Regions from separate parts of the Homo sapiens genome. Here all the other regions are linked to region 3. The links come from fine-mapping of genetic effects on gene expression. A gene starts in region 3. Each other region holds a variant in brackets. All regions are shown on one strand. Distances are between the middles of the regions.

Region 1 (5,331 bases), 32 kb before region 3:
TGGAAGTATACAGATAAACACAGATACAGGACAAGCACACATGTTCACACACAGACGAGCGACACACGGACACGCACACACAAACACAAGCAACACGCGGACATGCACACACACAGAGCAACATGCGGACATGCACACACACACAGAGCAACATGAGGACATGCACACACACAGAGCAACACGTGGACATGCACACACACACAGAGCAACACGCAGACATGCACACACAAACACAGAGCAACACACAGACATGCACACACACACAGAGCAACATGCAGACATGCACACACACACACACAGAGCAACACGCGGACATGCACACACACACAGAGCAACACGCAGACATGCACACACAAACAGCAACACGCGGACATGCACACACACAGAGCAACACGCGGACATGCACACACAAACACAGAGCAACACGTGGACATGCACACACACAGAGCAACACGCGGACATGCACACACAAACACAGAGCAACACGCAGACATGCACACACAAACACAGAGCAACACGTGGACATTGCACACACACACACAGAGCAACACGCGGACATGCACACACACAGAGCAACACGCGGACATGCACACACACGGAGCAACACGCGGACATGCACACACAGTTACAAGGACAGACAGAAGAACTGGAGGCTGTGGTGCCTCCACTAGGTGCCCCTTCTGGCCCACAAGGATGGCCGCCCTGACTGTGCCCACGTCTCCACCTGCTCCTGCCTCAAGAGGGCTTGGGCGACTCTGGGCTGGGCCCGAGGCTGAACAGCTTGGACCAGGGGACGGGAGCCCGGAGTCAGGCAGGGACCTGCAGGGCAGCCTTGGCTGTGCCCAGCCCTCCCTGGGCCTCCTGTCCCCACCTGTGAAAGGACAGGAAGGTTTGTTCCCTCCACATCGTCTCGGGCCAGGAAGTCCCAATCCAGAGAGTATCTGCTGCACGTCGGGCCAGCTCACGGGGGAGGCTGCCAAGGCTCAGACTGCCCAGTGGCGCCCCGCCAGGAGAATCATTCTGGTCTCACTCTGAGTGAGCCAGGGTGGGCGTAGGGGGCTGGGAACCCAAAGTGCCCAGCTGCTGCCATGCCAGGCCTCCCTGGTGGCAGGCGTATAAACACACATGATCCCCTAACAGGAACTACCCATGGCGGCAACACAGAAACAGATGTGACAGATGGGGCTGGAGGTAGACAGGAGCAGAGAGATGCATGCACACCTGTGCATGCTCTGTGTGTGTGTGCATGTCTGTGTGTTGCTCTGTGTTTGTGTGTGCATGTCTGCGTGTTGCTGTGTGTGTGTGCATGTCCACGTGTTGCTGTGTGTGTGTGCATGTCCACGTGTTGCTCTGTGTGTGTGCGCATGTCCACGTGTTGCTCTGTGTGTGTGCATGTCCGCGTGTTGCTTGTGTTTGTGTGTGCGTGTCCGCGTGTCGCTCGTCTGTGTGTGAACATCTGTGCTTGTCCTGTATCTGTGTTTATCTGTAGACAGGAGCAGAGAGACGCAGCCCAGCTGGCACCTCCAGGAAACCTTTAAGGACGGAATTCTATGCCAAGCCCGGGGCTGGGAGGCGGACACCCGGGTCAGGCCCAGGCGCCCCAGGGACCCTCACTGCCCGGTATGCCCTGGGCCCGGGCTCACCTGGTGTCCAAGGGCAGGTCTTTCTTTTCGTGGAAGTGGCCAATCTCCCTGCGCAGCAAGGCCATCCAGCTCTGCAGGTCAGCGGGGCTGTGGTGGGCACGGTGCCACCAGGGTGGGCCCCACCGCACCCCTCCACCTTCACTGCCCTGCCTGCTCTGCTGTGACTCCCAAGGTCAGAGGAGGCGACCCGGCTGGATACAACATGGCTGTGTGGCTCCCCTCAGCCCACAGGGGCACCTCCCAGGACAGCATGTTCCTTGTGTGGGCGCTGGCACCAGGCTCTGGGCATGGGGATGGAGCTGGGGCAGCACCCACCCAGCTGCCTGTGTCCCAGCCACACCTTCTCTTTGCCCGGGGCTGAGAGGCCAGCGCCCCAGGACCAGCGAGCCCCCAAGGCAGGTCCAGCCTGGTGCCTGCAGGCCCACACCCCCAGTCACCTTGCACTCGTCCTCGGACCCCCAGTCACCTTGCGCTCCTCCTCGGAGGAGGCCGAGAAGAACCACGTGCGGTGCTTCTTGCTGATATGGATGATCTTGAAGGGGAAAACGTTGTTGGACGTGGTCTCCTCAGCCGCCCGCATCACCCTGGGGGCACAGCGCCAGGGGTCACGGCCTGGTTCACAGCTATAGGGATGGCCTTCCCACAGCACCCCCCTGTGAACACGTCTCGGCACCAGCACCACGCCCCAACGGAAGAGGGCAGATCGGGTGGGCCCTGGCTGCTGATGCTCCCAGTAGTGAGCTTCATGCCCAGGCAGGCGTAAGGGGGCATGGAGGGGCATGGAAGAGGGGTGCTGGGTGGGCTTCGTGGGAGCAGCAGTGCACAGGAGACAAGGACAAACCTGCCTCGATGCCCGCCAATGCCACTTTACATGGACGCCACCCTCCCACCTCTGGCCCCATTTGCCCAGGCCTGCTTGGCCTCCCTGGGGTACCCCACAGGGCTCCGTGCCCCTGAGGCCCAGCAGCAGCCCTGAGTGCATTTCAGGGAATGACTCGTGCCTGCTCTGCGGCCCACTCACACAGCCAGGATGTGGGGTTTGCGCTGAGTTTATCACGTGGGGAGCCCTGCCAGCCAGGCACCGGGGCAGGTGCACTTATACGGCCCATAAGAGCCTGGCCAAAACTCCTCAGGCCCAGCATTCCCTGATGGGCTAGACAATTCCCTGGGGCATGATTGCATCTGCCACTGGGCCCAGGGTTCATGGCATGGCTGGCACATGCTGGAGGCCGGAAGGCGCTGTGTCTGTCTGCAGAAAGGGAA[C/T]GACCTTCCCCAGGGGACCCCGGAGCTCTGTGCCAGCATGGGGGCCTGGCACCAGGCTGGGTGCTCTGGCAAGGCTGCCCTACCAGGCCTGTGGCCAGGGTGCAGGCCGGGGCCTAGAGTCACTCCAAAGGTCCCAGTTCCACTACTGATACCATGTGACCCTTGGTTCCTCATAGGCAGGAGGGGCTGGGCCCTTAAGGGGTGGTAAGAGGCATAGATAAATGCTGTGGGGTGCAGGGCTCCGATGGGATAGCAACCAGAACCAGAGCTGGGTGCCAGCATTAACCCTTTGTGTGGGCCCCAGGCCATGGGCTGTGCCAGTGCACTCCCCCACCCACATGCCACCTGGCCACCGCCCACCTGCCTGTTAGTGCAGAAGGCCCTCCAGGGCAGCTCATGGCCCATCACTGGATAGAGCCCAGCCCAGGACATGCGTGAAGCTGGAAACTGATCCCGGCCTGGGAGGACCCTGGAGCAGGGAATCCTAGGGCCCAGCCTCTGTTTGGGACAGGGCCTGGGCTGGCTGGGGTCTGGGCTGCCTGGAAAGAGGTCATGGTGGGTGAAGGGGCAAGGTGGGGAGGGAGGAGAGATGCAGAAGTCACTGGGTGGTGGCCGAGTGGAGACTCTGGAGAGCAGGCTGTCCAGGCCTCTGGGACTTGTGCACAAAGCCACAGGAAGACCCTGGCACCCCCAAGGTCCTGCGCCTGAGGGCAGGACACGCGGAGAGGGCGAGGCACTGTGGAGGCTGGGCGGGGAGGACAGGGGATGGGCACGAAGGCTGCTTCGGGAAAGCACTTTCCTTGGGCGGGAATAAGGGGCAGGCCCAGCTGGGGCTCTGCTGGGAGGGACCCGCTGGCTGTGGGGGCCCGAGGTCAGCAGGCAGGTCGGGCACTTACCGGTTATAGCCACTCAGGGAGAAGGCGCCCTGCGGGGAGGCAGAGGTGCTACTCTTGAAGTAGTAGACGCAGCGTTTGTGGATGATGACAAAGCGCAGGGGCCCTGTGGGAGGTGGCAAGGGCAGGAAGGTGAGCCTGGAGGGGCAGCTGCCAAGACCCACTGTGAGGACCCTCCACAGGACAACTTGGGGCCAGGCCTCCTGCCTCTAAGCCTTACCAAATGGAAGAGCAGGGAGCAAGGCTGGCATGCTGCCCCCTCCCCAGGAGCCCACTCTGGGGCCAAATACGGAAAAAATTGTAGGCACACTGGCTAGCCCCAGAGTGCCACCCGAGGGCAGGCCTGGCTGCCCACAAAGAAGAGGTAGATTTGGGGGGCTGTGTGGAGCCAGCATGAGGCAAGGCAGAGCCAGGACCAGAGGCCCAGGGAGGCCACAGCTGACTTGCTGGGTGCTGCAGGGCTGTTGGAGGCTCCCACTACCCCAGAGCTAAAAGAGGGGGACTAAGGCCGGGTGCAGTGGCTCACGCCTGCGATCCCAGCTACTCAGGAGGCTGAAGCAGGAGAATTGCTTGAACCCGGGAGTCAGAGGTTGCAGTGAGCCAAGATCGTGCTACTGCACTCCAGCCTGGGTGACAAGAGTGAGACTGTCTCTAAAAATAAAAGATGGGGTGAGCCTGAGCAACATGTGAAACCCCATCTCTACAAAAAATACAAAACTTAGCCGGACACGGTGGCATACATCTGTAGTTCCAGCTACTTGGGAGGCTGAGGTGGGAGGATCATTTGAGCCCAGGAGGTCGAGGCTGCAGTGAGCTGTGTTCGCACCCACTGCACTGCAGTCTGGGTGACAGAGTGAGACATAAAAATAATAAATAGGCCAGGCGCGGTGGCTCATGCCTGTAATCCCAGAACTTTAGGAGGCCAAGACAGGATCACTTGAAGTCAGGAGTTCGAGACCAGGCTGACCAACATGGTGAAACGCTGTCTCTACTAAAAATACAAAAATTAGCTGGGCGTGGTGGCACACTCCTGTAATCCCAGCTACTCAGGAGGCTGAGGCAGGAGAATTGCTGGAACCCAGGAGGTGGACGTTACAGTGAGCTGAGATCAAGTCACTGCACTCCAGCCTGGGCAACAGAGCAAGACTCCATCTCAAAAAAATAAATAAATAAAAAACAAAAATAAATAAAAAATAGGCTGGATGCGGTGGCTCACACCTGTAATCCCAGCACTTTGGGAGACCAAGGCGGATGGATCGCTTGAGCTCAGGAGCTCCAGGCCAGCCTGGGCAACATAATGAAATTCCATCTCTACAAGAAATTTAAAAAAAAATTAACAGGGCATAGTGGCATGCCTGTAGTCCCAGCTGAGGGGATCACCTGAGCCTGGGAGGTTGAGGCTGCAGTGAGCCATGATCACGCCACTACACTCCAGCTTGGGCAACAGAGCAAGACCCTGTCTCGAAAAAATAAAATAAAAGAGGGAGACTCAGGAGCCCGGAGAGTTTGCCAGTGAGAGCCACTGGTGTGGG
Region 2 (5,331 bases), 39 kb before region 3:
CTGTGCACCCTGGGGAAGTCACTCAGTGACCTGCACCCTGGAAGACAAGACAACCAACTGTTGGGGTTCCCGGGTACTGCTGCGGTCACCACTTAGACATCAGCATGGGCACCCAGTAAGCTGGTAATCCCCTCCTTCCCAATCAAGCCCCAGCCACCAAGGCAAAGCTCACTGCTGCTTTATTGGAGGCAACAGCCCCTACTGGAGCCTGTGTCTTAGCGTTCCTGGGGGTCCCAGGGCCAGCCCCGGCCCCCACCCAGCTGCCCTGGCCCTGCCTGGCTCCCAGCCCACTTAGGGGTGAGTGTGATGGGGGGACCAGTGTTCCTGTCCTTGGAGCCCAGGCACAGCTTGGTCCTGGGTTTCTGGGATTGGGACAGGGCAAGTTAGTGTGGGGCAACAGAGTCCCTTCGTCCTCTGGAGCCTGGCGCCTGGTTCAGCCCTAGAACCCAACCTGCTGGATGAGACTGGCTGGGTCCTACGAGATGTCCATCACAGAGGCCCTAGGCAAGCACAGCCTTGCTCCTGCTCACCCTCCCATGTGGGCCCATGTCCGTCTGTGTGGCCTGGGGTCAGGGCCCCTGTGACTGCCTTGGCCTGGCAGCCACATGGACTGCCATCACCTAGGCCCAGTGTAGCCGTAGGGGTGCCGCAGCAGCAGGCTCTGGTGGCTGGGCAGCACGTGGGTGTGGTAGTGCTCCACCATGCTGCCCACACTCACAAACAGGACCTCGCCCTCCAGGTAGAACTTAGAGTCCTGTGGGGGAAGAGAAGGGGGAGCGTCAGCAGGGCCAGGCCACTCTGCGGCTCTAGGCCTCAGTCTCCCCGTCTGTAAAACAAGGCAGCAGCATCAACAGCGGCATCACCAGGCTGGCCCCTGGCTGTCGGTGGTGCCCCCAAGGTGGCCTCCGCATCAGGCCTGTGCTCTCCATGTTCCCACCTCACTTCCCCTCCGTCCTCCATGTCCAGGAGCCTGCACCCAGAGCACTTCAGACAAGGTCAGGAAATGAACCTAGGCCAGGCACGGTGGCCCACGCCTGTAATCCCAGCACTGTGGGAGGCCGAGGTGGGAGGATTGCTTGAGCCCCAGAATTTGAAACCAGCCTGAGAAAGACAGTGAGACCCCTGTCCCCGCAAAAAGAAAAAGACAAGACAAGCAACCCAGGGTCTATGGCTGACCGCCCATCCCCACTAGGGTCAGTGGAGGACAAAGGTAGGCCACGAGAGGAGGGAGGCTGAGCAGGAGGGGTGGGGGGTGAGCGATGGTGGAGGGGAAGGGGAGGGCGGTATCCTGGAGGTGCCAGTCTCAGTCTACCCGCTGCCTATGCCTCATCAGGGAGATTCTGCCCTGCCCCTTGCCAGGCCATGCGGCCAGGGTCCCCGTCCCACTCAGAGCCCTCTCACCTTCTCAAAAATGCGATAGTTCCTCACTTTGTTAGAGGTTTCGTCCCACACAACCAGGACCTACAGGACGGAAGCGGGAGGCTGACGGCTCCCTGAGAAACAGCGGGACCAGCCTCGGGAGACCATGGGCTGGGGATAGGGGGGCAGAACCATCAAGGCTGGGTCCTGTGGCCCTCGGGGGGCGGGGAGGGACTCCAGACCACCTGCACAAGGACAGCGGGGGCGACACTGGCAGCCCTCAGAGAGCCTCTGATGAGCAACAGCTCATAACCACCAATAACCACTCCGACACACCCGGGAGAGCATGGCTCAGTGAGGTCACAACTTCACGCTCGGAGGGACACGGGCAGACCTGGCGTTCCCCTGCCCCATGTGGCCTCCGCCACCCCAGAGCATGAGCCCTACCCCACCCGAGTCCTGGCCCCCACTGGGAGGTGGCCATCATGGCCCCCAATTTGCAGATGGAGATCTATTAGGGAATAGATTGGGGGGTGCTGCTGGGAAGAGAATTCAGCTGAGACACCAAGTAAGAGTCCACAAGGGGAGTGGTTTAGGAACTGTGGAGTCCTGGGCCCACCCACAGCCTGGGTGTGTGGAGAGCCAGAGGGGCCCTGGGGCATCTTCCCCTGGCGCCTACCTTCCCCGACTTGGTAGAGGAGTTCCGGATGCAGTAGAGTCCATCCTGGGGCTCTCCCC[G/A]GGGGCTTGTAGCCTTGAACAACCTAAAATAAGACAGTCATATTAGCGGGTGAGTCCTCCTCGGGCAGCTTTCACACGGACCTTCCCGCCCCGCTCCCAAGCCTGGCTTTCTGTCCTCTCGCTGTTGTAGGTCTCAGGAGCTGAGCACGTCGGGCTGCCGTGAGGCTGACAGAAGCAGCCCAGCAGAGCCCTGGCCAGCCAGGGTGCCAGCTGGGCATGGGACAGAGCAGGGAGGTCCACTCCTCTGGTTTCTGCTGCACGCAGGGCCATGAACTTGTGCCAGCAACTCCCCAACACGGAAGCTAGTGAGAGGGACACAGAAGCAGGAAGCCGGGCATGGCGGAGGACCCAGCACACACAGGGCTTTGTGCTGACCTTTCCACTTCGCAGGACTCCGTGGTGTTGACGAAGACCGAGTTGGGCAGTGGCACCTGCAAGAGGCTGACGGTGTCAGTGCCAACGTCGGAGTGATCCACCCGCACCACCACTCCCCGGACGGTGGCCACCCGGTGCCGGGATCCGGGGCTTTACATGGTGCTGTGTCCCCCTAGGCTCCCGGGTTCTCGGGGGGTCCTTGCTCAGGACGGTCTGTGAGGGGCCGCCCTGGCCTATGGCTTTCCCACCACCTGTCCACCTACTGGCCACTGGGACCCAGGCTTGCCGCTCAGCCTTGCCTTCTCATAGTCCTCGTCCGAGTCGTCCCCGCCAGTGTCAGCCTGTGAGGGTTGCCGGGGCTTTTCAAAGGAGAAGCTCCTGAAACTCTGCCCATCGGGGGGTGATCGCCTGGAGGGGCAGGGAGAGGAAGGCAGGACCATTTCACTGTCAGACACGGGGCGGCCACCCTCTGCTCCCCTCCCCACTCCACCCTCTGTGTGAGGACGGCAAGCTGCCTGCTATGGCCCCTGTGACCCTAAAAAGCTCAGGACAACAGAGATCCGGGTAGGGCTCGTGCCGACTGCCCTGGGACAGCAGGAATCGCCCGACACCGGAGTCAGGGGTCAGGGCTGCCATGGATGCTGGCAAGGGAGTCCAGGGTTCCCAAGCTCAGTGTCATCACACCGTCAACAAGTGCTCTGGATGCTCGTGGGGAGGGGAGGTCCGGTCATGGCCAAATCACAGCCCACTCAGAGCCACAGGGGAGTGGACGTGAACTGGATGAACAATGCAGTGTGACCCCAAAGGACGCCCATGGCGTCCCTGCACGCCTCCCTGTGTGGCTAGCCGGTCCTGCTCAGCAAAGCCTCAAAGGCTCTAGGGAGGATTAACGGGCCACGCCAGCATGGGAGGCCAGCCTGTGGGTGAGGCTGAGCCCTGGAACCGCTATCCCCACAGTCATGGAAAAACGTGACTTCCGAACATCTGCATCTCTGCAGCCCTTGGTGAACTAGAACCACGAGTGTGACAAGGGCTGCTCAGAGGCACTTCCACACAGGCAGCAGGCATCTCAGAGGTGTTCGCAGAGCCCTGGGAGAAGGGCACCGTGGGCAAGGGCATTCGGGGGTGCGCGTGCCGGCCAGCACACCCATGCGAAACCTGCCCCTCCAGTTCCTGGACCCTTTGCCTGCCAGGCAAGGCAGGAAGCCCACCTGGGGTCCCAGATGCCTTTGACCACAGCCATTGGCGTAACTCTGTGGGAGTGGGGGACAAACTGGTCTCCTGGCACTTCCCAGAAATAAAGCAGAAAGCATTTCAGCAGGACGCGGTGGCTCACGCCCGTAATCTCTACACTTTGAGAGGCCGAGGCAGGCGGATCACTTGAGACCAGGAGTTCAAGACCAACCTGGCCAACATAGTGAAACCCCTGTCTCTACTAAAAATACAAAAATTAGCCGGGCGTGTTGGCAGGTGCCTGTAGTCCCAGCTACTTGGGAGGCTGAGGCAGGAGAATCACCTGAACCCCGGAGGTGGAGGTTGCAGTGAGCTGAGATCGCACCACTGCACTCCAGCTTGGTTGCCAGCGTGAGACCCTGTCTCAAAAAGAAAAAAAAACAAAGCATTTCCAGCAAGCTTCAGGGCTGAGTCATGGACATGCTCCACGTTCCACCAAGGCGGACTGGAGGCAACCGGGAACCTTCCTACCCTTGCACCTGGTACCCCGTCGTGGGCTAAGAGTGCCAGGGGAGCGAGGTGGGCAGAGTGCCCGTCAGAGGCCAGGCCAGGGTCCCTGTAGCTGGAGGCAGGGCTTGCAGCCGCCACACAAACTCACTGGAGGTGCGGGAGCTGCGGCTTCTCTGGCCTGGGCAGGACTGCGGGCCGCGCCATGGCCTCAGGCACTGGCAGCTTCAGCGCAGGAGGCCGGGGAGCCACGGGGGGCACAAAGAGTCCGGGCATGGCTGCCTCCCTTGGGGGGTCCTCTTCAGCTATCTTCAGGAACTTGGGCTTGTTGGCTGGCACAGGTGGGGGCTCAGATGTGGGTGGTCCTCGGGGGGACAGGTGGAAGGACTTGAGTTTGTCACAGTTTCTGGAGGTGGCAGTGGCCATGATGGCAGCACTGGAAGTGGAGCAGGCCCCGTGGCCAGGGGTCCAGGGCTCCGGGCTGGGGCTGGCACTCTCCCGGAAGCAAGGGGGTTTCCGGAGGCCGGGTGCGGTGGGCATGGTGCTCAGAGGGGGATCGCTCATCCTTCGGGGGGTAGCAGGTACCCTGGGGCAAGGCTCAGCCCGCCTCGGGCACAGTGGGTCCCTCTTGGAGTCCTCAGCAGCCAGGCCAACATCTGGGAGGCCGTGCTTAGGGGGCGGGGGTGGCAGTAGGGGACCGGGGCCCTTGGAGGTAAAGGAGTGGGCCCGGGGCATGTCAGAGAAGGCTGGCTTCCTGGGCGTGGGCACTGGGGGTGGTGGGTAAGCCGGTGGGTGCATCAGGGCATCTGCAGAGCAAAGAGACCCGGGTTGGACCCTGACAGAGACTGGGCCAACACTATCCTCTGCTGGCAGTGGTCAGCCAGGCCAACCAGGAGTGCAACCCATGGTAGGCCCACCCCACAGCCTGCCCACCCAGCAGCCCAGCACCCAGCACTCCCATCCTGCCTTCCCCAGGGTCCCAGACCACCCACCACCCCCAGCCTTCCCCATTCATCCTCCCTATGGCAGCCTGTGGACGCTTCCTGAAGCCTAGAGGACACCTGAGGAGCCCATCAGGTTCCCAGAGGTGGAAGGAAGAGAAAGGAAGAGAAGTCAAGAAGGATCTCAGGGCTCGGCTGGAGCGAGAGGGAGGACGGAATTCCCAAGGACAGGGGAGGG
Region 3 (5,331 bases):
GTCCCTGCCCCCACCCAAAACAGGACATACAGCGGCCCTGAGGACCAGGGAGAGCACCCTCAGCGACCCACTGTCACTGAATACCAAGCACATGTCACCACCACCACCATCCCCCCTACGGACACTCATAGCCACCCACCAGGTACAAAGTGCTTCACAGCCCTCAGGTCATGGATGAGAAAACGGAGGGGTGGCAGGGGGAAGCCTCCTGGCCATGATCACACAGCTGGAAACTGGTGGCATCTGAGTTCACACCCAAGATCCTGGCTGAGTTTGCGCCCTTCCTCCCTGCCCCTCAGGAACCAAGGCTGGCCATCTCGTCTCTCTGGGCCCCTGGACTTCCCGTCTGTGGGCCTGCTTGTGTGCGTGCATCCCTGGGGGGTGGGGAGCTCCAGCTGACTCAGCACCCTGCTTCCTCTGTCCATGTGGGCAGAAAGGGCCAAGGCAGGCCCAGAGCCTGTCCTCCCTCTGTCTGCCTCTTCAGGCCAGCCTCCTTGGTGGGCTCCCCCATGATCCTGGAGGCCTGGGGACTCCCTGAAAGGCCAGGTCCCCTGTCAGCACCCCTCTCACCAGATGGCCCTGGCTGGCAGTTCCTAGACACGGCTGCCTATCTGTCTTCCTTCTGCCTGCCCCCTCCAGGGTGTGCCTAACGCAGGGCACAGAGCCAGGCAAAGGGAGCCTGGCGGGTGGCAGGGAGAGGGGATAGACAGAATCCTCACTCCCTTGCAGCCCTCGTCCCAGGCCTCCTGTCCTGCCAGGAGTGGAGTGCCTGGAGTGGGGCCCTGAGGTTGGGCTCCAAGAGGGCCCTTCGACGGTGTCTACGTAGAGGAGACAGTGGACAGAGTGGGAAGAACCAGGAGGGGGTGGAGCCCAGCCCCTCCTCTGGTCCCACAGGGCCTGAGCCAGTGAGGGCAGGAGCTTGTCCAGGCTCATGGAGTTGGTGCAGGGCTGACCTGAACCCAGAGGCTTGCTTCGGCAAGGAGGAGGCTGTGGGCCCTGCCTTCAGGCGGTTGTGGAAACAATTCTACACATTGCATCACCGGCCCATGTCACCTGCAAGGCCACACACATGTCATCCAGGCAGGCTGTCCACCCCAGCAGCCCACACGGAGTACCCGCCCCTGGCCACAGCCAATTCGAAGGACTTAAGTGTGGCCACTAGACCAGGAGGCACAGCTGTCCCCAGTGTCAACAGATGAGCAAACTGAGGCACAGAGAGGGGATAGGAGGTGCTCACGGAAAGGAGCACCAGCAGAAGGCTCCCCACAGCAGGGCTCAGGCCCTCAATACCCCCAGGGAGCCGAGGCCCAGAGCAGCGGGAAAGTGCTGGGCTGCAGGGAGGCCAGCGTACAGGTGGAAGGGGCTGTCCCCGCCCCCTAACTCCTCCAGTCCCTCTGCCACCCCTGAGATTCCCTGTTGCCCATGAGAGTCTCAGACGCCCGGCTATCAGTCACTCACACTTCAGTGTGAATCAGCGCCAGTGGGCGGCTTTTCTTGCCCTCCGTGAAGCGCGGCCGCTGCAGAGGGAAGTTTGGATTCCGGGAAGGGCGGAGAGCGAGTGCCCGCCGCAGCCTTTGAGTCTTGTGGGGAGGGTCGCGTAAAGGGGCCCCGCCGCGGGGCCAGAGGGGCGCGAGGGGTGCGAAACAGACGCGTCGCACCGCCTCCCACCCCTGAGCCCCCGGCAAGGGACACCCGGCCCCCGCCCCGAAGCCGCGCTCCCTCGGGCACTGCCCGCCGTGCCCAGGCCCCGTGCGTCCTTTGGCAAGGACACGGAGGCCCCGGGGCCCGGGGGAGGCTGCTGCGCACCCGAGACCCCCGACACCCGCCCATACCTGCCGGGACCCTGAGACTCCCCCGAGACCTGCCAAGACCTGCCGGGACCCCTGAGACTCCCCGGAGACTCCCCCGAGACCCCCGAGACCCGCCGAGACCTGTCGGGACCCCGAGACTCCCCCGAGACCCCCGAGACCCGCCGAGAGCCCCCAGACCGCCAAGGCCCGCCGAGCCCCTTCCAGACGCGGAGACCGCCCCCCCGCGAGACCCCCGAGACCCGCCGAGACCCGCCGCCGAGGCTTACCCGCCGAGCGCTCTCCTGGCCCGCGGGCCCTGGGTCGAGGCGGCGGCTTGACTCGGCCGCCAGGCGCTCCCGCCCGCGGGACCCGCCGCCGCCGCAGCTCCGTCCCGCCCGCGCCCGCCCAGTCCGCCCTCCTCCTGGCCCCGCCCCGGCCCCGCCCCTCCCCGGCGGGTCCCGCAATCCTGGAGGTCCGAGCTGGGCGTGGGGCGGGGCCGGTACCTCAGGGTGGGCGGGGAACTGCACGTGGCCTCCGCGGCCCCGGGACGAGGCCCCTGGGGGGCGAAGACTGGCGTTGTCGCGGGCCTAGACGCCGGGTCCACAGTAGGTGCTTAGTTCTCGCCCGTGAGTGAGGTAGCGTGTCTGTCCCTCCTGCGTGTCCCTCCCAGTGACACCCCAGTGCCCAGCGACCCAGGTGGAAAGGGCGCTGTCCACCCCCCCAGCCCCGTGGTCCTGATCCTGGGCGGCCCCACCCCTGCCCCGTGAGTGCGACTTAGGCCCTGGCCAAGACAGGAGCAGGGGAGGTGGGGGAGGGCTTGCTGGGCACCAGGAAACCTTGTCTTTGTTTCCAAATGTCCTCCAGGGTACTTTTCAGGCACTTCCCAGGGGGACCTCGCCTCTTGGACCAGGTCTGGACTCCGGTGGCCCAGAGGTCGTCTTGGGGCTGGGAGGCACAGGAGACCGGGTGCTTTACACTTGGCCTCCTCTGAGGCTCCCTTTCCTCCACCATCACCCTCTCCCTAAGAGTAGGCCCAGATGCCTTGGTGTAAGGGCAGGGGCGAGAAGAGGAGGGGCTTCCTGGGAGGAAATGGCTTCCCTGGGGAGCTCTCAGGGCCAGGTAGGTGGAGGGAGCCGTGGAGAAAGTGAAGAGGCTGGGGAGACCAAGCTGGGCCTGCAGAGCTTGAGGGCGAGCGGACCCCCCACCAGTGCGGGAGTCAACTGCTTGGGGCGTGGGGGGACTCCTCCCCATGAGGAGTGGGGACTGGACCCCAGGTCCCAGAGCCCAGGAAGCTGTGAGTAGAGGAAGGACAGGATCTTGCTGGGAACCCAAGGGAGCTGGGGGTGGGTGGTGGTGACCTGGCCCTGTCCAGGCAGGCGGCCAAGGTCTGACCCTCTGTACTGAGCACAAGAGGCCAGAGTCCAATGACAGGGGCTGAATTGGCTGCTCCAAATCAGGCAGGGGCAGGGGTGTCCAGGGCTGGCCCTGCAGCAGGTGAAGGACTGGGTTTGGGTCCTACAGGTTGAAATACCTGAGGGCCTCCAGGAGACACAGCCAAACCAAGCGGGTTCTCAGGGTTGCAGCTGGACCGAGTGTGGGCCAAGTCACCGTCCACCTGTCCCAGAGCTGCCCAATAATGGGTCCCAAGCCTCAGAAAGGGGATCCCTGGCTGCAATAGCCCTCCTCCCTGCTGGAGAGACACACTTGGGATCAGAGAGGTTAACTGGGGAGGGGAGTAAGTGGGAGGAGTCAGAAAACTAGGTGGCCAGGCCCTGAGCCCAGGCATAGAGGAAGAGCCAGTGCCTACCAGGAAGTGACCAGGACCAAGGCAGGGCCTCTGGAAGGGAAGGGACAAAGCAGGGGATGGCAGAGGCAGGGGAGGATATGGGAGAGTCTTCAGACAACAGGGCCCCTTTTCCCCATCTGTGAAATGGAGGGGGTCCTCTACTGGGGAGGCGGCAGAAGTGGATGGGGCATGACAGCAGGCAGATACTCACTCTACCTGGCCCAGGGCCACCCCTCACACCGGCGCTGGGGCTGTGACTCTACCCACCTACAGCCTAGCTCTCGGGGCTGAACTTAGACCCCAGTGAGGGAGTAGATGGGTGCTGGCTGGCTGGGGTGCTCACTCTCTGGGGTGCCTGCTCACATCCCCACCTGTAAGTGTCCTGGGCCTGGCTCCCCAGGTCTCAACTCTGCTCATCCCAGCATTGGGTAGCCTGCAACTCTTCTGCCCACCCCCCACTCTGGGCTATTTCACATTTTCCTAGCAGGGAGGAAGAGATAGGAACTACAGCCATTGTGGAAGTGGCTGGGCTCAGCCCCATCCGACGTTCAGTGCTGCCACTGTTAGCACCGCATGGGGCTGCGTCACTCCTGTAAGAGGCCACATGCGGAGGGAGCTCCAGGCTGGGCCAGACTGGTCTAAGGCTCCTGACAAAACACTCATGACCTTGGGGCTGTACATCTTGATGTCCCTGATGTCCAGTTCAGCTAAATAAATGCCTGGCCCCACACCAGACCCCGGGGACCCAAGATGATACAAGGAAGTCCCTACCCTTGTGGCTCACGAGAGGAGCAAATGGACAAATGAGCAGATGCCATTGGGTCACAGCAAGTGTCCTGTTCCCAGGGGACCAGCTGGGGAAAGGGGCAGAGACCGGGAGGGGAGTGGAGCAAAGCCAAACGTCGGTGCGGCCCCGCCAGGGCCTGACTACAGGGCAGGGTGTACAGGGCTGGCCTCAGATGCCAAGCTCAGAGTTGACGGAGCAGGGTCACTGCAGACAGTGTGGACGGACCAGGCGCCTAGAGAATGATCACCCAGAAATGCAAAGCACCTCTGTGCAGGGCACCTCAGCCAAACAGGGGGAACAGGGTGCAGCCTCCACCGTGGGGAGAATCCCACACCTCATATTCCTCCCCTTCTCCCCCCTTACCAGTCCAACCCCAGGGCGTGGGAGGAAGGAACTCCTAGTTGGGGCCTCAGGGCAGCTCCCAGCAGCCCCTCCGAGCAAGAAGCTGCTGGAGGCTGTGGCCAGAGCCTCTGGGCACCCAGGGGTTCCGCTGAGGCTGACAGAGCAGGGATGGGTGAGGAGGATGACCTCGCCTGCTGGGAGGGTATGCAGGGCAGGTGAGCAGAGGTAAGGCGAGGACCCCTGGCCGGCAGGGAGCTGGGGAGCAGACCTCCACAGGGCACATCCGGGGTAGAAGCCCATGGTGATGCCCCAATCACACCCACAGAATAAGGCCAAAGAGAAGGGGGCCGGTCCCCCGCCACACCCATCCCCCGTGTGCCATCGGCCATGCCACTGATTTGGCAGGACCCAGAACAGGCAGAGGCAGCTGCTGTCTGGGGGGTAGGGCAGGACCTGCTGAGGGTGAGGCTGACGGTTAGGATGGCGAGGGCAAGATCTGCCGCTGGTCTACGTGTCACAGGCGTCCCAGCAGGGGGCTTCATGCGCCTGCCAAGTCTCTTTTTCCTTCCCTGGGCCAGCAACCCTGGAGTCGTCCGCACTGATGCCTCTCTGCTCGCCCCACATCC

The links.
Region 1: its variant is fine-mapped to the expression of SH3BP2 in whole blood (TOPMed, PIP 0.92).
Region 2: its variant is fine-mapped to the expression of SH3BP2 in whole blood (INTERVAL, PIP above 0.99).

The regions. Positions count from the first base shown.
Region 1 is chr4:2,821,509-2,826,839 of GRCh38, reverse strand. SH3BP2 (SH3 domain binding protein 2) reads right to left here. Exons shown (of 13, transcript NM_001122681.2): 3 at 3,803-3,905; 4 at 2,110-2,227; 5 at 1,644-1,714. Among named protein-coding and RNA genes, the nearest start is that of ADD1, 20 kb to the left of the region's middle. RefSeq lists enhancers at 1-4, 5-891. The variant C/T (reference allele first, on the strand shown) is at 2,907.
Region 2 is chr4:2,829,120-2,834,450 of GRCh38, reverse strand. It overlaps SH3BP2 (SH3 domain binding protein 2), which reads right to left. Exons shown (of 13, transcript NM_001122681.2): 8 at 4,304-4,958; 9 at 2,772-2,880; 10 at 2,473-2,528; 11 at 2,039-2,120; 12 at 1,402-1,461; 13 at 1-754. The coding sequence ends at 617. Among named protein-coding and RNA genes, the nearest start is that of ADD1, 12 kb to the left of the region's middle. The variant G/A (reference allele first, on the strand shown) is at 2,098.
Region 3 is chr4:2,789,885-2,795,215 of GRCh38, reverse strand. It overlaps SH3BP2 (SH3 domain binding protein 2), which reads right to left and starts at 2,131. Exons shown (of 13, transcript NM_001122681.2): 1 at 2,078-2,131. RefSeq lists a silencer at 2,064-2,413.